Linked DNA regions of Homo sapiens: region 1 is linked to region 2. Evidence: fine-mapped expression QTL. Tissue or cell type: cerebellum. Region 2 holds a variant in brackets; the other region holds the start of a gene. All regions are shown on one strand. Distances are from middle to middle. Region 1 holds the start of NPTX1 (neuronal pentraxin 1). Region 2 has its middle 23 kb from the start of NPTX1.

Evidence for each region. PIP is the estimated chance that this variant, and not a neighbour inherited with it, causes the effect.
Region 1: NPTX1 starts here. The variant in region 2 is fine-mapped to the expression of NPTX1 in cerebellum (GTEx, PIP above 0.99). The same link has a PIP of 0.9 or more in cerebellar hemisphere.

Annotation. Positions count from the first base shown.
Region 1 is chr17:80,471,959-80,482,080 of GRCh38, reverse strand. It overlaps NPTX1 (neuronal pentraxin 1), which reads left to right and starts at 5,474. Exons shown (of 5, transcript NM_002522.4): 1 at 5,474-6,078; 2 at 6,363-6,570; 3 at 8,637-8,881. The coding sequence starts at 5,635. RefSeq lists an enhancer at 6,487-7,020.
Region 2 is chr17:80,448,381-80,458,502 of GRCh38, reverse strand. No RefSeq gene overlaps it. Among named protein-coding and RNA genes, the nearest start is that of NPTX1, 23 kb to the left of the region's middle. RefSeq lists enhancers at 685-774, 3,257-4,086 and silencers at 1,260-1,554, 3,320-3,579, 3,840-4,049. The variant G/A (reference allele first, on the strand shown) is at 5,771.

The DNA of each region.
Region 1 (10,122 bases), 24 kb before region 2:
TCGCCACACTTGCATAGTGGGCAGAAGCGCGTAGTCCTGCGGTGAGGCAGGGCTGGCTTCTCCTCTGAAGATGGCTGGTGAGAAGGTCTTGAGCCTGGGGTCCGCAGCCCCACCTGCCCTGCCCACTCACTGGACATGGGTGGGCTGGGGCACTGTCCCCTCAGGGCTCCTCTCCTGGAGTCTTTTCCTTGCAGCTCCTGTGCTGGGCAGAGATAAAGTGGCCACATGGAGTGCGAAGGCCAGGGCTTGGCCCCAGCTCTGCCTTCGCTGGGCGACGGTGCGACCTTGGCTTCTCTGGGCTTCCCTGTGTTTCCTCTGTGGTGAGCGAGGACTAGAGCCCAGCTGTGCCTTTGAAAGGCAAATGCGTGAATGTGGACCCAGGACTTGGAAAGGGGACAAGTGCTTGTTTTTAAGACACAGTTAGGTTACCACCGCAGGGGTGTCATGTAGAGGACAGAGGGGAAGGCTCGGGTGGGGCGCCTCCCTCAGCAGAGCCGGGGAGCAGGGACCTGTCCCTTATCACACAGAGCTGGTGGGTGGGGCTGTCAGGAGTGACTCCAAGGCACAGGTGGGCTGAGGCTGTGACTCAGAGGCCCCGTGGGACTGGCTGCCGTCAGAGCAGCCCCACACCCAACCCTGTGGGTCCAGGGGCGCCTCACTTGGGGGGAAGGTCACGTGGCCTGACTGTGTCCTGAGGGCTGGGCTGCCAGAGGTCCCTGTGCCTTCTCCCCTGGTGCGGCCAGAAGCCCCTCTCCTCTGCCCAGGACACCCTGCGGATGCTGTGCCCTGCACACCCTGTGTGAGGCATAGAACCACAGAGAAAGGTGCACAGATTGCACCTGGACAGCCCAGTGAATGGTCACAAGACAAACACCCCATGAGATCAGCACCCAGATAGAGAAACAATATGGCCGGTACCCTGCGAGCTGCTGGAAACTCAGATGCAGGTGAAAATGGCGTTGCACATCTCACACACTAAAACCCCGGCCACTCACCTTACCGCAGACTGTCCCACATCCTAGACCAGCTGCCAATGCAATGAGTCTCCGAGGGGTACAGCCTGTCCTCCAGAGGGGCATGTACCTGACCCTTGGCTGAGGCACTGTGTCTATCCCAGGGCTGTGATCATCGAGGGCTCCTGCTTCTCTTCTGCGGGTGGGGGACCAGGGCCTCTCCCACCCCACCATACCCTCCCCTCCCAGCCTCACCCCTCCAGAGGCAGCATGGAACATCATGCGGGAAGGGCTGAGGCAAGTGGGGCAGAGAAGGGTGCCTCTGCCTAGCACCCCGCAGTGCTCTCAGGCCCTCCCAGCATTCTCCCAGCACCCACCCATTGCTCACCCTTCTTCCTGCTAAGGGTGGAGGTTCCAGATAAGCTCAAGGCATGGCCTGGAAGATGAGAGGCCGGGGAGATACGGCAGGATGAGCAAGGGGCACAGGCACCCACCAGGCTTAGGCACACCCCTGCATGAGCTCCCACCGTCCACTGAGTAAAGACTCTTGATGGGCACTGAGGTCCTCTTAATACCTCCCAACCTACCCGGCTAGCCTTCTTTTTTTAAAATTTTTTTTTTTGAGACAGGATCTTGCTGTGTTGCCCAGGCTGGAGTGCAGTGACGTGGTCTCGGCTCACTGCAGCGTCAACCTCTCGAGCTCAAACAATCCTCCCACTTCAGTCCCCAGAGTAGTTGGGACTGCAGGTGCACCCCACCATGCCTGGCTAATTTTTGTATTTTTGTAGAGATGAGATTTTGCCATGTTGTCCAGGCTGGTGTCAAACTCCTGGGCTCAAGAGATCCACCCACCTCGGCCTCCCAAAGTGCTGGGATTCAAGGCGTGAGCCCCTGCACCCGGTCTGTCTAGTCTTCTTATGCCTGGCCACCCTCTCCATACTGGCCACTAACCAGGGCCTCTCCTGGACACCTGCCCCCTTTGCCTTCTCTACACTCCCCCTCCCACTACCAACTAACCTCTGCAGGCCTCTCCGTGCCCTTCCACCAGGAGTGAGCTGAGCCGGCCAGTACCCACTGATGGTGGCATTTGCAGGAATTTCACAGGTCGATGGTTAAACACAGCCACTATTACATTTTAAACTAAGTAAACTTATAATTAAATAAATTATATTTTAAATGGGCAATAAATACTACAAACTCATCACTTTCTAATTATTTTCTTACATTGAACTATTGTCTATCTTTTTTTTTTTTGAGACACAGTATTGCTCTGTCATCCAGGCTGGAGTGCAGTGGTTCGATCTCGGCTCACTGCAACCTCTGCCTCCCAGGTTCAGGTGATTCTCCTGCCTCAGCCTCTCAAGTAGCTGGGATTACAGATGTGTGCCACCACACCTGGTTAATTTTTGTATTTTTGGTAGAGACGGGGTTTCACCATGTTGGCCAGGCTGGTCTCAAACTCCTGACCTCATGTGATCCAGCTTGGCCTTCCAAAGTGCTGGGATTACAGGCGTGAGCCACTGCGCCCAGCCTTGTCTATGCTTTTGAGTTTTATTCACATCTATTGCACCGTTATGGTGGGAGTAGTATAATAAGTACTATTGTGCTAGGCCGGGCGCTGTGGCTTGCACCTGTAGTCCCAAGACCAAGGCAAGAGGAGTTCAACCATCTCTACGAAAAAAACAAAAAAAATTAGCTGAAGTGTGGTGGTGCAGGAAGCATCGCTTGAGCCCAAGAGGTCGAGGCTGCAGTTAGCTGTGATTGCGCCACCGCACTCCAGCCTAGGCAACAGAGCAAGACCCTGTCTCAAAAATAAAATAACAGTGTGCTAGTGTGCATGGTTTCCCAATGAGTGAGGTCGTGTCACAGGCAGCCACAAATGTACGCGGCTGGGAATATTACGGGATCGCCTCCCTCACCCCAGCTGCATCTGGGGTGTGGGACTCAGGCAGGGCCGGGATCACTGGCTGTTCACAACACCATCCCCCCTCTTCCGACCTAGTAACCAGACACCCCGATGAGTTTGGGCAGGGCGGCCCTTCGTTTTCCTGCTCCCTCCCTCTCAGATACTTTCAGAACACTGGGGAGGCCGAGGGAATCCTAAATACGACCCTCCGCTTGCCCAGGGTCTTGTGAAGGAGAAACGCGGCATGGTGGCCCTCGCGTGTGTGTGCAGCGCCTGCAGGTGTCCCGCCCAGCGCCTCCTGCACAACAGTTGCAGGCTGGACCCGAGGGTCTCCTCTCCTGGGGCCCCACAGTGCCCAGAGGTCCCGCTAGCCCCAGACACCGCCCCAGGCTCCCCTCCCTTTCTGACGCCGTCCACTCCCTTCCTCTGCGGAAGGGGGACACGCTCCTCTGTGCCGAGGTGCCAGGCCGCTGAGATCTGCTGCCCTGGAGGAAAAGCCAGGCAGGGTCCCTGGCCTTGGGCGGCTAGGAAGGCTCCACGGCTGCTGGGGATAGAGACGCGGGGCCAGGCTAAGGGTTCCCGCCCCGTCTAAACAGCCTGCCCTGGGCAGGGCAGGGCTCCTCTCCCGCGCCCGCGCGCTCTCGGCTGGGCACGGTCCGGCTCCAGGCCTGACGGGCGCGGCCTCCCCACTGGACGCGTGCGGGAGGGCGGCGAGGCCAAAGCGCTGGGGCCAGGAGGGCACCCGCCTAGCGGCTCCCTACGGGAGTTGGGGCAGAAGACGCCGCGACCCCGCGCGGGTAATTTCTCCCGAGGCGCGTTCCAGCCCGTGGCGCTGCCGGCGCAGACCCCGCGTGGGGACCGGCGAGGCTAACCCCTCCTGCGGCCCGGGGTCGGCAGAGCACGCAAGGGGCCGCGGGCCGCGTGGGTTTGGGCGCGCCGTGGTGGGCAAGCGGGGCCAGCGGAGCGGGAACCCGCACACCCTCCGAGCGGAGCCGAGGACAGGCCCGTGCGGGCCGCGGGGTCCCTCTGGCGCCAGGAAGCGGCGGCCGAAGGAGACAACGAGAACGCAGCCCCGGCTCAGGGAGGCTTAAAAGCTGAGATGCTGAACGCAGACGGCGGGCGCTCGGGGGCTGGGGGGCGGGTAGAGGCCGCCATTTCTCAAAAAGGTCTCCATCGAGCCGGCCTCTGCTCCCGCCCGAGGGGCGGACGCCCGATCCCGGCACCCGGGACTGCCCGTGGGTCCCTGCTGGCTGGGGACCCCCAGCCCCCGGCTGCGCGCAGGGAAAGGCTGCAGAACGCAGAGACCAGAGAAGCCGGGGGCGGCGGGGAGGGGTCGGGGGGCCACGGCTGTAGCCCGGCCCCGCAGTCTCGGAGCCTCAGTTTCCTTCTCTGTACCACGGGAGCGTGGACGGAGGGATTTCCGAGGCTTTGACCGCTCTGATAGCCCCGGGGCGGGGCGGGGCGGGGCGGCTGCGCCAGCCCTGGTCCTGAGCCCCCAGCCCGGCGCCGGAACCCGGACCGCGATCTCGGGAGCCGAGCCCCGCGGTCCAGATGAAGGCGCGAGTGCGCGGGTGCCGGGTGGGGTGTCTGAGCGAGAGCGGAGCTTCTCAGGTGGACGCCCCCAGCCACCTCCGGGACCCTTCCTGCTGGCCTTTGGGCCTGAGAAGTGGGCGCGGCTGGACAGACGGGAAACAGCCCCCCACGCACAGGTGGACACCCGGGGATACCGGGCGCGCGCGGCGCCTGGCAAGGGGAAGCTGCTGGAGACGCGGGCGGCTGCTCCCGCGGGGCCCCCTTCCGAAGCGCCGCTGCGAACGTCCAGCCCCGGCGACGCCGCCTGCCCGCGATCGGGCCGGCGCCGCGGACAGGAAAGGCTCGATCAGCTAGGTCTGCCTCCGAGAAGTCCCCAGCGCCCCGCCCGCACGGGGTGGGGACTGACAGTCCCCCGGGGACGGGGCCGGGTCCACAGAGCCCGGGAGCTGGGGGAGGGGAGGCGCCGGGGGCCCCGACCCGTGGGAAGTCCCTGTACCCAGGCTGCCCGGCGGCTTCTCAATAGCACACGGACATCTAAGAAACGCGGGGCGGCCCGGTGACCCCCGCTCTGGACTTAGTGGCGCCGCGAGGCCCCACTCCGAGCCGTTGACCACCGGGCACTCGGGTGTTGACGACCTGGGTCCTTGGGCACCCAGCCCGGCTCCAAACGACCCCGGCCCAAGGGTGTTCAGTGCAGCCAGGAGGGCCGAACCGAATTCTATCTCCCGGACGCGGTGGTTTCCCGCCCGCCTGGAGCCCCGTCGGAGGTTCGGGGACACCACGCAGGTGGTCCATCCTCGAGTCCGGGGCCGGAGCCCGACTTCCTTCCCCCTGAGCTCTCGGAGCCTTCGGGGCAGCAGCGCCGGCCCAGGCGGGGGCGGGGGAGGAGGGGGCCGCGGCAGCTCCCAGAAGGGCGGGGGGGACGCGAGCGGAGGCAGCCCCGGTGGCGCGCTCGTGAGACCCCCGCCGCGCCGCGGGCCCGGGCCGCGGACAATTAAAGCGGGATTCCTCCCCCGCTGACGTCGGCGGCTCGAGGCCCCTCCCGCGGCGGCATAAAAGGCGCGGGCTCCGCAGCGCAGGCGGCAGTGGGGGCCTGATAGCGCGGCGGTGTGGACCGCGCGGCCGAAGAGCGCGGCGCCCAGAGCGCGGGCCGCTCGCGGAGCCACAGCCCGAGCCGGGTCCCAGCCGGAGCCGAGCCCCAGCCGAGCCGAGCCGGGCCCGGAGCGCCCGGTGCCCGCAGCCATGCCGGCCGGCCGCGCCGCGCGCACCTGTGCGCTGCTCGCCCTCTGCCTCCTGGGCGCCGGGGCCCAGGATTTCGGGCCGACGCGCTTCATCTGCACCTCGGTGCCCGTGGACGCCGACATGTGCGCCGCGTCCGTGGCCGCCGGCGGCGCCGAGGAGCTCCGGAGCAGCGTGCTGCAGCTCCGCGAGACGGTGCTGCAGCAGAAGGAGACCATCCTGAGCCAGAAGGAGACCATCCGCGAGCTGACCGCCAAGCTGGGCCGCTGCGAGAGCCAGAGCACGCTGGACCCCGGAGCCGGCGAGGCCCGGGCGGGCGGCGGCCGCAAGCAGCCCGGCTCGGGCAAGAACACCATGGGCGACCTGTCCCGGACACCGGCCGCCGAGACGCTCAGCCAACTCGGGCAAACTTTGCAATCGCTCAAAACCCGCCTGGAGAACCTCGAGGTCCGCGCGCGCCCTCGGCTCCGGTTCCCCCTCCGGCTCGCTCGCCCCTCTGCCCTCCCCCACCCCGTTCCCTACCCGGCCAGGCATCCCCCGCCCTCGCCTCAGCCGCGCGGGTGCCCGGCCGGTGCCTCCCCGCGCCTGCGAGGCCCCGCGGCGGCCACTCGCCCCAGCTCCCTGCCAGGCCGCCCCCGCAGTCGCCCAGAGGGGACCGCGCCGCGGGCCTTCCAGCACGGTCCCCGCGCCTCGCCTAACGGTGTGGTTTCCCCCGCCCTTGCACCCCGCAGCAGTACAGCCGCCTCAATTCCTCCAGCCAGACCAACAGCCTCAAGGATCTGCTGCAGAGCAAGATCGATGAGCTGGAGAGGCAGGTGCTGTCCCGGGTGAACACCCTGGAGGAGGGCAAGGGGGGCCCCAGGAACGACACCGAGGAGAGGGTCAAGATCGAGACCGCCCTGACCTCCCTGCACCAGCGGATCAGCGAGCTCGAGAAAGGTACTGGGGCCAGGGGGAGCCGTGCTGCCTGCCTGCACCTGCTTGCCCGACCCTGCCTCGGTCCCGATCCCTAACAGCCCAGCTCTGCACTGTGCAAGCCTCAAGCCGCTCCGCTACCCCCAACCCCTGCACCGCTTTCTCATTCCCCGCACCCCTTCCCAGGTTCTGGGCTTCTAGTCGGTGTTTCTATCAGGGCTGGGTGCCTTGGGCTGGGGCTGTCTCTGGGAAAGGGGATTGCATAGTGCCCCCTCCCCCATCCAGACACACTCACACACTCGCTGGATTTTTCAAGTCTGATTTGTTTAATCCTCAGTAACTTTGCACAGTGGCTGTCGCTGGCTCAAACCCTCCCTGCTTAAGAAAGCCTGTCTCTCCCTGGTCCCCAGCCTCAGCGTACAGCTGGGTGCAGGCTGGGGCTGGGCGCTCTCGTTCCCCGGGCCGCTGAGGCTGTTAAGCAGGTTTCTTCCCGGCTGCCATGCCCCCGGTGTCCTCTCAGGATCTCCAGCTCCTCCCCACTTCTGTCCTGAACCCCTACCCTGAGGTTTTCTTTTCTGAGTGACCCAAGTCCTGGCATCTTTCAAATCCCTGAGGTTTCTCAGTCACCAACTCAGGCCAGCCAGTCTATCACCCAGGGCGCCTGGATGAGCGCTGGAGGCTCTGTCTTGAAGTCGCAGAAATCAAACAAGGTTGTAAAAGGGGAGGGGGGGGGGTGCCCGGTGCGGAGCAAGGCCACGTGACCCTGCTCAGACCGCAAAATGTGCCGGACAGATTTAAACAGTGCCATCTTAAGGCTTGTTATGTAACTGAAAAACAGATCAGAAGGAAGGACCTCAGGAGGGAGGGAGAGGGAAGGAGCGGAGATTGGGGAATGAAAAACACCCGGAGAAAGGCCAGGGGCTGGGCCCCTCCCTATCCCCCACTGCAGGCCTCAATGGGTTGGGGTAGCCGCTGGGGTGCTGCACTGAGGGGGCCTGCCCTGCTCTGCTCCCTGCCAGTTGGTTTAGAGGAGGGGGTGGTTGCTGACCGGGCAGGATGTCTTCTAGAAATAATTTTTGGCCTGGGGAACTGGTTTCTTTCTGGGCTTCCTGGCAGGACCACGGCTGCTCACCCAGGGATTGACCAAGGGGTGTGTGTTCCTGGGCTCTGGGCCTGCTACTGTGCCCATTGCTGGCCAGGAATGTTTTGCCTGGAGTCAGTCACACCATACCCAGGGTGCCACAGTATATAGATGGGCTATGGGGGTTGGCGCTTACGGGAGAAGTGGCCGGTGGGGAGGGAGAAGGTGGGCCTTGTGGAAAGGGAGGCCACCAGGCCTGGAACCTGAGCTGTGAGGACACTTACTCACCTGAGAGTGTGGCGGCATCCTAGAGCAGTCACCTTGGGGAGCCCTGGCGCCCAGAGTACTCCCAGCTCCTTGCTGCCCTGCCCTCTCAGCAGAGCTCCAGGCAGAGTCCCTGCTCCAAGGAAGGGCCTTGGAGGTGGGGAGCTGCCCAGCCTCACACCCAAGAGGCATTGGTGGGTCAGAGGCACATCTGGCCTGGAGGGAAGTGTGTGGGCACCAGGGCCTGGCTGTCGGGTGGGGAGAGGCAGGAGCAGAGCCTGGGATTGAGCGAGGAGAGGCTCTGAGCCCCGCCCCATCCTGGAATCAGGTCGGTTACTCTCAGGGTAGCTAGCCTCGTTCCTCCTCTGCAGCCACCCCTGCTCCTTGGGTTGACTTGGCTTGGCGGCTGTCCCCATTCCCTTCTCATGCCCACCACGCAGCCCAGTGTTGATGCAGCAGCCCACCAGGCACTGCCCCCCACCCCCATCTCCCCAAGGATGCCAGCACATGGGCGTGACAGCAGGCCAGACCTGGAGCATGAAGAGCTTGGGTCAGCTCTTTACAGACTGGCCCTGTGCCTTGGGGCAAAGTACTTGACCTGGGAAGCTACCCGCTCTGCGTCTCCAGAATGGAGACCGGAGCCTGCCCTGGCCACGCATCACAGAGCTTGGTGGGGACCGAACTCAACTCAGACACCGATAAGCACTTCACGCAGGTGCAGATGTCAGGACTGTGTCTTCCGCAGGTCAGAAAGACAACCGCCCTGGAGACAAGTTCCAGCTCACATTCCCACTGCGGACCAACTATATGTATGCCAAGGTGAAGAAGAGCCTGCCAGAGATGTACGCCTTCACTGTCTGCATGTGGCTCAAGTCCAGCGCCACGCCAGGTGTGGGCACGCCCTTCTCCTACGCTGTGCCCGGCCAGGCCAACGAGCTGGTCCTCATTGAGTGGGGCAACAACCCCATGGAGATCCTCATCAATGACAAGGTAGAGCAGCCCCCGGGCTCACAGGGCGGCAGGGCGAGGCCCCAGGGCCCCAGCTCATGTTGCATGCGGAGACAGGGCTATGGTGGCCTCAGATGTTGATGGGGCCCCAAGGAAAGTGTTTGCCAGGTGGGACTGAGGGAGGGGGAGGGTGAAGACCAGGAGAAGTGGTAGGAGCCCCCTCACCTGTACTGGGAGAGCAGGGAGAGCTGGACCTTCCCGGATGCCTCCTGGGGTGGGTACGGGAGATGGCGGAGAACGAGCCATGGGGCCTGGCCCTGCCCGATGATGTGATCTGGACTCCTCCACCAGCTGGCCTTGGAACTGGCTTTGCCCCTCCATAGCAGGGACCCAGAGATGCTCTAGCGGGGTGAGGGGTCCTTAGAGATTTTTCCTGAGTCCAAGTCTATCCCACTCAGCCCCCTAACTCTCGGGAGGAGGACAGGTCTGTGTGATCCCTTGGAACAGGACAGCACAGGCAGCCTTTCCCTCTAGTGAACATTCTCCATCCTCCCCTGTTAGCTATGGAACTAGCTGCCAGCTTTCAAACTGTCTCAAGTCCAGGCCAGCAGTGGTAGTCAATGGCTAAAACCTGGGCTGGGAAGTGGATTCCACGCCCTTGTTCCTGTTGCTCTTCCCCACAAAGGGCTGTGCCATTCTGGGCCCCCTTTCCCCAAGCGGAAAGGGTGTGAAGTTTCTTTCCTCACTGTCTGCTGGACCGTCATCCTCCCGACCTGGAATGGCAGTGGGAGAGTGAAATTCCAGGTTGGAGGCTGGTCTGAGCTTTAAAAGGCATCGTGCTCCATGACATCTCTCAGATCCTCGGCAAAAGCTTGCCGTGTTGTAGAGTGAGAGGGTGTAACAGCTAGAGATGGGACATCGGAAGAGAGAGGAGAGGCCAGCAAGGAGGCTGCACAGATGTCGCACGGAGCCTTGAGAGGCAGCAGTGAACTCAGACACCAGGGACGGCTCTCCCTGGTGTAGACTAGGGCTTGTTGTGTAGACTAGCAAAGAGGGAGGAGGGTGAGTAGGAGTGAAGAGACTGCACACCCACATGGCCCTTGGGGGTTCCCTCGGTAGAGCCTTACATTTCCTGTGTGATTCTGTGCCCCACGCCCAGGCGGGGCTGACAGACGCTGAAGTCTGGGGCAGTAGGTGCTGTGAGAATTCAGTAATAGTTATTGACATTTACTTTGCAAGTAGAGATAGGAACAACTGAGGCAGTGAAGATTATGGCTTCTGGG
Region 2 (10,122 bases):
CAAGCCTCCAGAGGGAACCAGCTCTGCTGACCGCTTGACTGTGGACTTCTGCCTTCTAGAACTGCCAGAGGATGAGTTTTGAGGTGCCTAGTTGGTGATATTTGTTTTGGCAGCCCAGGACAGTGGAGCGTCCTTAGGCTGGGGGACTGGGGAGTACTAGGCGGCTGTCTGGGCTGGCTGTGGGGTCTCTGTCTCCAGCTGGGGGCTGATCCTGTTGCAAGAAGGGGCCAGACCCACTTCAGGTGGGGCAGAGGCTGGGGTCAGAGCTCTCCAGGGCTCCGGGGTGTCCAGGCTGCTGGCCCTTCGGCACCTGGCGGTAGAAAGGGGAGGCCTAGAGGCTGTCTGGTCCAAGCCACATGCGCATTCTGCACCCACCAGCAGCCAGCTTTGGTCTTGGAGCAGAACCAACGGTCCACAGTGGGGTCACCAACACCAAAGAACATCTGAGGATCCATGTGGGAACCACACTGCCCCAGGAATAAACGCACCAGCGTGTCACCCAGACTCTCCCTGTTGTGGGAATTCGGTCTTAGATGGGCAGAGGGACCAGAAGACCCTAGGGTTTCAGCAGGTGGAAAGGAAGGTGGCAGTAAGAACCACCAAGGGGACAGCGTGGGGATGGAGAGAGAGTGGCAAGGCCACAGGGCCGGAGTCAGCCACATGGGTTCCTGAGGCGGAGGCTCCAGGCAGGGGCCCGGTGACCACGAAGGGCCCGAAGGAGGAAACTGTTCGGCCACACAGGAAACCAGCTTGTCAGGAAGAGTGTGGATAAGAAGGGCAGTGGCAGGTGAGTCAGAGGCAGCTGGGGGTCAGGTGACACCCAGGTCTTGAAAAAGAGAAGAGCCACCCACCCTGGCGTCACTAGTCACTAACCTGGAGACAATTTCATGGCTAAGCAATGTCACTGAACACCAACACCAGACAAGACCACTGTGTGCCCGAGATGGGGCAAGATACACAGGATCGTGTCAGAGCATAGGCAGAACATGAGCATCGGCCAGACCTCAAGGGTCACCAAACCACCCCGTCCTGGCTAATTTGAATGACCGCTGCTGCTTGATCAATTTCAGCTTCAGCTGCATTTTGTTCTTCCTGCCTTCTAGATAAAAGTTATCAAGATACCCAGCTGTGGAGTCAGCCCTGCTGCCTTGAGCCTCTCCCAACTCCTCCTCCCACCATGCTCTCCCAACACGAGGAGACTTGCGGGTCCTTCCTAACATCCTCTCACAGCAACCAGTCAACAGACGTGGCTTGATTCCACTGCAGCGCGTTCCTGGGGTCTTTGGTTGGATGGTAATGGACGCTTTGGTTTTATTCTGAATGATAACGAAAGCCACTGAGTGGCTGCGAGCAGAGGAGAAATGGAAGTGATTTTGGAGACACTATCTGGGGGAGTAGCCAGGAGGCTCTGTCTGGGGGCGGAGGTGAAGGCAGCTGGGGAAGATCCTCTGTGGCTACTCGGGGTGGGGCGGGCAGGAGGAGAACATGCAGATGGCCTCTATGTGCCAGAAATGCTTTCCAGGAGCTTCTGACAGGAGAGGGCAGCTGCAGAGAGCTGGACGGGGGACAAGGCTGTTGCTCCACCAGCTCCAGGCAGCCTGGCGAGGCTGAGCACCCAGCCGAGGAGCAGAGAGGTGCCCACTGCCACCGCCACCCTAACACCCTCTGAGCAGAGGAGCCGGCACGCTCAGGATATCCTTTAAGACAAGAGTTGAAGGGAAAGACAGAATCAACCCGGCTCTGCAGGCGCCAAGGAGCCAGCACACATGGAGGCTGTGCAGTCCATTCCCCGGATGTCTGATGTGGGCGGCAGCACAACACGTTGCTTGGAGGGGCAGTGAGGTCATTCCCACAATTCTGAAGAAGGGTCAGTGGACTGTGTGCTCAGCAGGGAGGGCTGATGGGCCAGACTTGTGGATCACTGACAGCCGGGTCGGAGGGGGGGCTCACCGGGAGGGGTGTCCCCCACCACCCACTCCAGTTCACACTGCTTCTGACTTGTGCCCAGGAGAGCAAGCTAGCCTTCCAGGGGGCCAGAGTAACACTGGGCATCCTCTCGCTGCCTGCTAGGGTGAGACATATGGGACACGTGTGTAGGTGTCTGTCCTCCTTTGATTACTAGTGCTGGGTGGGGGGGGGGGTCCCCAGAGGTCCCCAGGGAGTGCAGAGGCAAAGGCTTAGCATCTGCCCTTGCTGCCTCTCTCCTGGACCAGACTGCTTCCCCTCCTTCTCCCAGGACCTGGCCGTACCTGGAGGGTGGAGCCCTCCGTTGAGCCTGCTTGCTTGAACTTCCCTTCCTCCCCTGCACTAGCAGGCCCCTCAGGCCTCATGGGGACACTCTTCCCCAACCCCCTACCTCACCCCCTCACCCCTCACCTAGAAGGAGGTCAGAAGAATTTGGTGCCATGGAAAGGAACATGGGGCATGGAGCACTTGAGGACACTCCCGGGACCCCCTCTGCAGGGGAAGGTGGAGCTCTGGGGCCAGAGGCTATGAGAGCACCAGCCAGCTCAGTGCACATTTGTCTGAGTCCGGAGTCCCAGTGCTGCTGTGAATGCGCTGAAGGGGTGAGGCAGGGATGGGGTGTTAGGGAGGAAAGAGAACTCTTTGTGAGTCACATTTCAGACGCCTCCATTCCCATTCATACATTAGGGTCTGTGGGGGACTGGGGCACATCAATATATTGTTAGAGAAAAAATGTATATGCAATATAAATGCATTAAGAAAAAAAAACACCCGAAGAAACGATTCTGACATGTTAATAGTGGTTCTATGTGGCAGTGGGATCGAGGATTTTTATACCGTACTTTCATATGTTTTCCAAATTTTCTACACCAAGCACGTGTTAGTTACGTAATTTAAAACTTATTTATTTTTAAACCAAATTCTCCAGCCAACTGTGCTTTTCCCCAGTTGCAGTAACTTTCCTTTCAGTCAGGTTTCTGGGTGAATCCAAAGAACAAGGCGGCCTCTCAAGCCCACATCATGTCACGTTCATATTTTCATTCTTCCTTCGTTGGGCCGGCTCTGCGGAGGCCGAGCGCTGGGGCTGGGGCGAGAACGGTGTCCCTGTCGTCAGGGAGTTTCCAGCTAGTGGCCTTCTCCCGCTTCTCAACCCATCCCCTCCCCTGTCCGCCGAGGTCGGGCTCTGACGGGAGCGGGCCGCCCTCCGTCTGATAGGTGCGGTCTGGGGAACTTGAGCTGCCCAGTCTCCCTCCTTCTTTCCCCTGCTGCAGACCCCAACTCTGAGCTTGGGGGACAGGGAGGCCGAAAGGGCCCTGTTAAACGCTGGGTGCTGGGAAGCCGCCCCCTCCAGGGAGCCCTCAGGACCTCAGGCCAGGGCTGGAAGCGAGAGGAGGCCGGAGCCCAGGGAAAACGGGCGACCGGGGGCGGCGCGCGTGTCAGTAAGGAGCCAGGCGGCGGGGACGGAAGCTCCGGGAGGGCGGCGGGCCGGGGCGGGTGTCAGAAGGCTCCGATTGGGCCTTCTGCGGCCCTGCTTCCCCCGCCCCCGAACCCCCCAAAAGCTGCGGGCAGCGGCAGGGCGCCTGCGACACAGGGGCGCGCCGCGCGGGACCTGAGGAAAAGCTACGGCCAAGCCCCGAGCACAGGCGCGCCGCCGCGCTGGCTCCGGGAACGCGGACGCACGGCGGGGCTGCCACAGCAACGCAGACAGGAGCGCGGCGACTGGCGGAACCGCGGAGAGGCGGGACTCAGGAGGCGTCTCGCGAGAGTTAGGCTTCGCGGGCTTCCGGCCGGTGCCGGCCGCGGGGGCCGACGGGGTTAGGCTTCCGGCGTGGGTTGTGTGGCCTCTCCCAGCTCCACGCGTTTCTGGGCGCCGGGCACTAGGCGAGCCGGCCGGGCTGGCGCGAGGCCGCAGGCGGGAAGAGTCCCCGGGGTCGGCCCCGAAGCGGCTCTGGAGGCAGTAGCCGGGGACGCCGAGGTCAGGGAGGAGGCGGATCCGAGCGCGGTCCCGCAGGGCCCTGTCCGTTCTTCCGCCTCGGCCGGTCCCGTCAGGCCGCCTTTAAATGCCCGGCGCCTCGCACCTGCTAACAAAACGAGCTCCTGCTGTTCCCCAGCTCCGTAAATGGTGCCCCTGGCCCTCCCCAGTTCTCAGGCAGAGCCTTGGCGGCCTCCCTGACCCCTAACACCCCGCATCCAGCCCGGCAGTACATCCTGTTGGCTGTGCCTTCGAAATTTCCCCAGACCTGACCTCTTCTCCCACCTCTGCCACCACCCTGCTCCGAGCCGTCTTTTCCCGCCGAGATGACTGTAGTAGCGTCTCAGCTGGGTCTCCCCGCTTCCACCTTCCCCTCCTGAGTCTCCTCAACACAGGAGCCAGAGCGATCTCGGAAAGTACAGGAGGTCATGCCCCAGTGTGGTTCCCCTTTCCTGGGTTTAAGTCAAGGTCCTCACCGTGCCTGCCGGCCTCCCGGGTCTCTGCGCGGTGGACTCTGGACCTCCCTGCCCCGTCCTGCCTCAGGGCCTTTGCACCTGCTGTTACCGCGGCCTGGAACGCTCCTCCCCTGAAACCCTGTGACTCCCACTTAGTGAGGCGACCACCTGTTGAAAACCGTGCCCCCTTCCTATACAGATGCTCCTGTCATATGGGGTTAGATTCCCCATCAACCCATCATAGGTTAAAGCATTGTAAGGCAATTTACGGTAGGTTTATCCGGATGTAACCCCATCTGTAAGCGGAGGAGTATACTGAATGTGTATGGCGTTTGTACCATGGCAAAGCCAAAATGTAAGTCAAACTCGAAGTCCAGGACGGTCTGTGGCCTGTACTCCCTTGCTTTCCCTCCCCGGCTCTTAGCGCCATCCAGCATCGTTGATAATGTAATTTGATGTGTATTGTCTGAAAGCACCAAGACGGCAGAGTTTCTCTCTTATCCAGATCACAGTGTGTGCTCAGTAAACACTAGACTGAGGGGGTGTATGAGAGGTCTTTTTTTCCTCTCTCCTTCCTCAGGAATGGGTGAAGATGAAGTCCTGTAAGGCAGGAGCTGGATCAAAGAAATATCCCGGGTCTTGTCTGTGTGCAGACTGTTGTTTGAGGACTCTGCTCCAGTTCTAGCAGCGATCGGTGGCTCCCTTGGGTGACTCTCCAGAAGGAAGGGTGCCAGCATGGACTGGTGTCTGCTTGCCAGATGCCCTGAACAGCTCATTCCTCAGGAGGCCAGGGGCGCCTCAGGAAGTGCTGTCAAATGCAATCACTCTCAGAACCCTCTGGGCTGAAAGATGTCATTGATTTATGCTGGCAGCCCCGCGCAGCACTCTGCTAGGTGTTGAATTGTCTGGAGAACACCTGGTATCACCCTCAAGGCCCCTTAGTCTGGTAGGAAGGAATGATGAGGAAGAGGCTGTGTGGAAGTCACAGAGAAGGAGGAGGGTGGGATCAGTTTCCAGGGTGGGGTCTCTGGAAGTCCTCTCAGGGGTTCTCAGGGGGGCATTTCTGCCTAGAGCAGCAGGTGTAAGGCGTGAGCCATGGACGAAGGGAAGGAGCCAGCCATCATTGATCGCCTCCTCTGTGCTGGATGTGGCTCTAGATGTCAAGCTCACATTTACACATTAGCCTTCCTTTACAGAGGAGGAAACAGGCTCAGAAAGCCCCTGACCCCGGTTACACCACTACTAAATGCAGGATTCAGATCTTCAGTTGAGCTCTTTGTGGCCGTGAAGCCTGTCCTCTTCCCAGGGCTCGATGCCACTTCCCAGGCTGGAAGCCAGACAAGCATCCGGGGCTGCCCGGAATTGCATGCAAATGTCC[G/A]GACAGCCGGCTTCCTCGTGGGCCCCGGCACTGGCAGAGGAACTCTTTGCCGGGCATGTGGCTTGGGCAGGCCAGGGCAGCCATCTGCCAGCCAGCCATGTGGGGAGGAGGCTGTAGGCCACCCCACAGCCAGATGCTTCTGGGCCGGTCCTGGGCTCCCAAAGGTAGTTCCTTCAGGAGATGGAGTCACCTGGCTCCTCTCTTCCCTTCCACCCAGTTCCAAAGTCAGGGGTTCTGGGGCTGTGTCAGCAAGGGGCCATTCTGGCACTGTCCTTCTGGCACAGAGCATTGTGGCCAGGGATGGACATCTGTTCTGCATTGACCCCCATGGCCAGGACATCTGTGGCCCCACGGAACTCAGTGACAAGGAGAGTCGGCAGCAGGGAAAGGCCACGCTCTGTAGTGTGTCTGCCAGGTGGCAGAGGATCCCTGACACAGCCCAGCTGGCATCTGCCCTTGCCACTGAGGCTTCCTGAGGGCAGTCCCCAAGGGTCCTGCCATGCCAGGGCTCCCCTTCTGCCAGGCAGTGGCTGCTTAAGCTGAGGGAGGGAGAAGCTGGGAGTTGGCCATGACTGATGGTACCAGGCCAGTGGGATCTGGAGCCCACAGATGGTGGAGGATGGGGCACAGCCCCCACCCCTTACCTGTGACGTGCCCTGCCGGCGGGCAGAGGCATCCGGTCTGCTCTGTAGAAGTTGGAGGTACAGACTGGCAGAGGGAGAAGCGGAAGAGATAGCATCATTTTACAGAAGGGAAAGCTGAGGCCCTGAGCCAGGGGGATATGCATGGATGCCCCGTGGGCTTTCTCGCGTTTACTCCTCCGCACAGGGCCCTGTTTTTCAATGGAGGAATTAGGGCTTGAAGGAAATGAAGTGAGGTTTCCAGGGTCCCCTGGCTAAGCCAGTTATTTGGCCCTGACCGGTGCAAATCTGAGAGGGGGACTAAGCAGGCCCTCAGGCCAGGGTCCGAGCTTGCTCACTCAGCCACAGCAGGGAAGAGTCAGCCTGAGGCAGCAGGCCCAGGATCGAGGGTGACCCTCCTCCCAGAAGCAAGATGTGGTGAGGTCCCAGATGGGCTGGGAAGGTGGCATGAGGGCTTGCTTCAAGGGAGCCTGCTGGCTGGCCTCCAGTATCCACCTGGAAACAGCCCCCCAGGTGTGCCCCTCGAGCTGCTAACCCCAATCTGGCCACCCCCCAACTCGCTCCTCAGCACTCCAGTGGTCAGGGTGTCCCCTTCCCTGGTCCCTCCTTGCCCCTCCTCTTAGCACCAGCAACCGGGGCCTCCAGCAGGCCAGAGATCTTCCCACAGCCTCCTGGGCTTCCTGCCCAAGGCAGGGGCTGATCTCTCAAGGGTGGGTGGGACTTCCGGCTGTGCCATCAGCAGTTCCTGGCTGTATCAGTTAGCTTTGGCTGTGTAACAAATCACCCCAAAGCCTAGAGGCTTCACACAACTACCATCTCTTATCCCTCACAGATCCCTGGGTTGCCTGACCAATTCTGGTGTGAGCTTCCCTGCTCAGGGGACAGCTCCCTGAGCCCAGAGCCCTGACTGCAGAGCTGCCGCCTGCAGCCCTGCATGCTGTTTCTCACCACACTGTGTCCCCGCCCTTCCAGCCCGTGGAGTCACACTTCGCCACCCAGCCCCCGAGGACACACTCATGGAACCCCCAGTCAGGCGTCCAGACTAAGCCACCAGGGTGGCTCCTCTCAGCCCCACTCCTGACCAAAGCTTCCTGCCTATCGAGCGTGGGGACCAACTGCAGGCACCTCCGTCTTCAATGCCACTCCGGAGGCAGAGGGGAGCCTCCACCTTCCCTGGCATTGTCACCATCAACCTTAACAATAGTTTGACTTGGTTAAGCTCCTCCAAGGGCCGGGGAGGTCGGGCTGGGGCCAGAAGGAGCAGCCTGTACCAGGTAACTGTGACAGCAGACAGCCAATGGGCAGAAGAGAGGTGTCAACGTCCCCCACTGTCGGGACCAGAGAAGGCGCCATGGGATGAGGGAGGGTCTGATCCCAAGGTAGGAGGAAGTATCCTGGGTCCCGGGGTCCCTCGAGCAATCTGCATTGTAAGGGAGGGTCCCTCTGGGGCCAGGAGATACATCAGGAAGTGGCGGAAAGACTGCATTTGGGGGCCAGATCTGGAGGGCCCTGGAAGCCAGGCTGAGTCGTCTGCCTTTGCGAGTGATGGGGAAGCGTTGACGGGCTTTGAGCCCGAGCCTGCCAGGAGCACAACGGAGCTTCAGGAAGCAGCTTTCCAGTAAGTGCCGGGAGCCTTCTTGGAAGCAGGCAGAGGATGAATTATAAATAAACAAACCAGAGCCCTGCAGCGGCGTGGGCCGGGTGGGAAGAGGGGAGAGACCGGAGGCAGGGCCTCACTTAGGTGCTAAGCAGCCCCTGGCCTGGCCCCCGCCAGCCCTCCCACCCTGCCTTGCACCCTGGCCTCGGGGACTCAGCGGCCTTCCTGCTCAGGGCATCGGCGGGGACCTCAGGCTTCTGGGGCCAACCTTGGCCAGGCTGCAGAGGGGAGGCCTAGTGTAGACCCCCACTGTGGGACTGGGAGGCCCCCCTGCCTCTCACAACTCCAAGGGTACAGGCCCAAGTCTCTCTCACACCAAAACAGGCCCCGTGGCCACTCATCCGTGTGGGAGGTGTCTCACCAAATGTTTGAAGGGGAAAAAAAATCCCATTTTCTAAGGTGTTTTTTTCCTTTCTATTTTTTGATTATTTTTCTAGATGACTTCATTTCTAAGAAGGGGGTAGTGGAGAGAAGGAGGACAGGGGGAGGGAGGACTTGGGCCCTGAGGAGGCCGCCGGGGACCAGAGCAGCGTTGGGGGAGGAGAGCGAGAGCCAGGCCCAGGGAAAGCCCAGGCCTCTTCAACCTGGGGAATGGGGGGCTTCTGTGACCCGAGCCCAGGTGTGTCCCGAACCCAGGTGCCTCGAGTGCCGGCTATGAACACATCTCCCTCCTGATCTCCCACGGGCCTGCTGGCCGCCTGTACTCCCACGAGGCCCTGTGGGGGAGGTCGGCTCTCCTCCAGCAGGAGGGGAAGGGTCTTCAGGCCTTCACCCCAGATCTCTGGCATGTGACGCGCCCACCCCCCACCTGTCCCAGGGACAGAGCTGAGAGCACTTCCCCATCCCACACACCACTTGGAACCGGCAGAACCCACTCTGGCCAGCTTAATGGAACCCAATACAAGATATTAGGAGGCTCATAGAACCTTCCGGAGAGCCTCGGCGGCCACACAGCCAAGAACAAGGGCCCAACCGTGCAGCCTCCCCCACCGGGCATGGACCCAGCAGCCCGCACCTGCTGTTCTGAAAGCCAGGGCCCCGCTGCCGTCCCCGTTGGTCAAGGGATTCTGGAGGCATCGGCTTCCTGGCATTGCTCACCTCTGAGGCTGAGGCTGAGGCTGGCAGGTGCGAGTGGAGCTGGCTCCTATGCCTGGGCTCGGGCTGCAAGGGAGGCAGGCCCAGGCACAGGATGGTGCTCAGAAGGTGGTGGCCACCCCAGCACTCCCTGAGCCCTTGAAAGACTTTTCCAACCCCAATACCCAGCAGTCTGCTGGGCTGGAGAGACGGGAAGGGAGGCTGTCTCCCTCTCTGGGGGCTGCCATTAACAAATGAGCATCAACTTGATGGCTGAAATCAACCGACATTTATTCTCTAACAGGTTTGGAGACCAGAATTCCAAAATCCTTCTGGTCCTCTGCGGGGACCCTGTCCCAGGCCGCTTTCCCAGCTTCCGTGGGTGCTGGGGACCTCGGCACTCCTTGGCCTGTGGATGCATCTCTCCCACTGTCCCACCTCTACCTTCCCCTGTGGGTGTCTGGGTCTCAAATCTCCCTCTGCCTTTCTCTTTCGAGGACACCTGTCATTGGATTTCAGGTTAACCCTTCATGCAGGATGATTTTATCTCGAAATCTTTAACTTTATTCCATCTGCAAAGACTAATTCCAAAAAAGGTCACATTCTGAGGTTGTGGGTGGACACCTGGGACCACCATTCGGGGCACTACCATGGGCATGATAAATGGGCACAGGACGGGCAGCCGGGGAGGGAGGAGGAGAAGAGGGAAGGACGTGGGTGTCGGCTGGGACCGCTGGGGCAGGAGGAGCCAACTGCCTTGGGACTGTCGTCCTGGACGTGGGATTGTCTGTCCTCTTACGCCCAGACCTGCTTGCCACTGCCAGATGGTGTTTCCCACCACCCTTGGCCTCCTCACTGTTGCCTGGCATGTCCCAGTTCTACATGCCATGAGCGCCCCACCTGCCCCCCAACAGCTTCCAGACCCCCTCCAAGCCTCAGAGCCCTGGGTTCTCCTGAGTCCCAGAGGCAAGAGAAGCTGC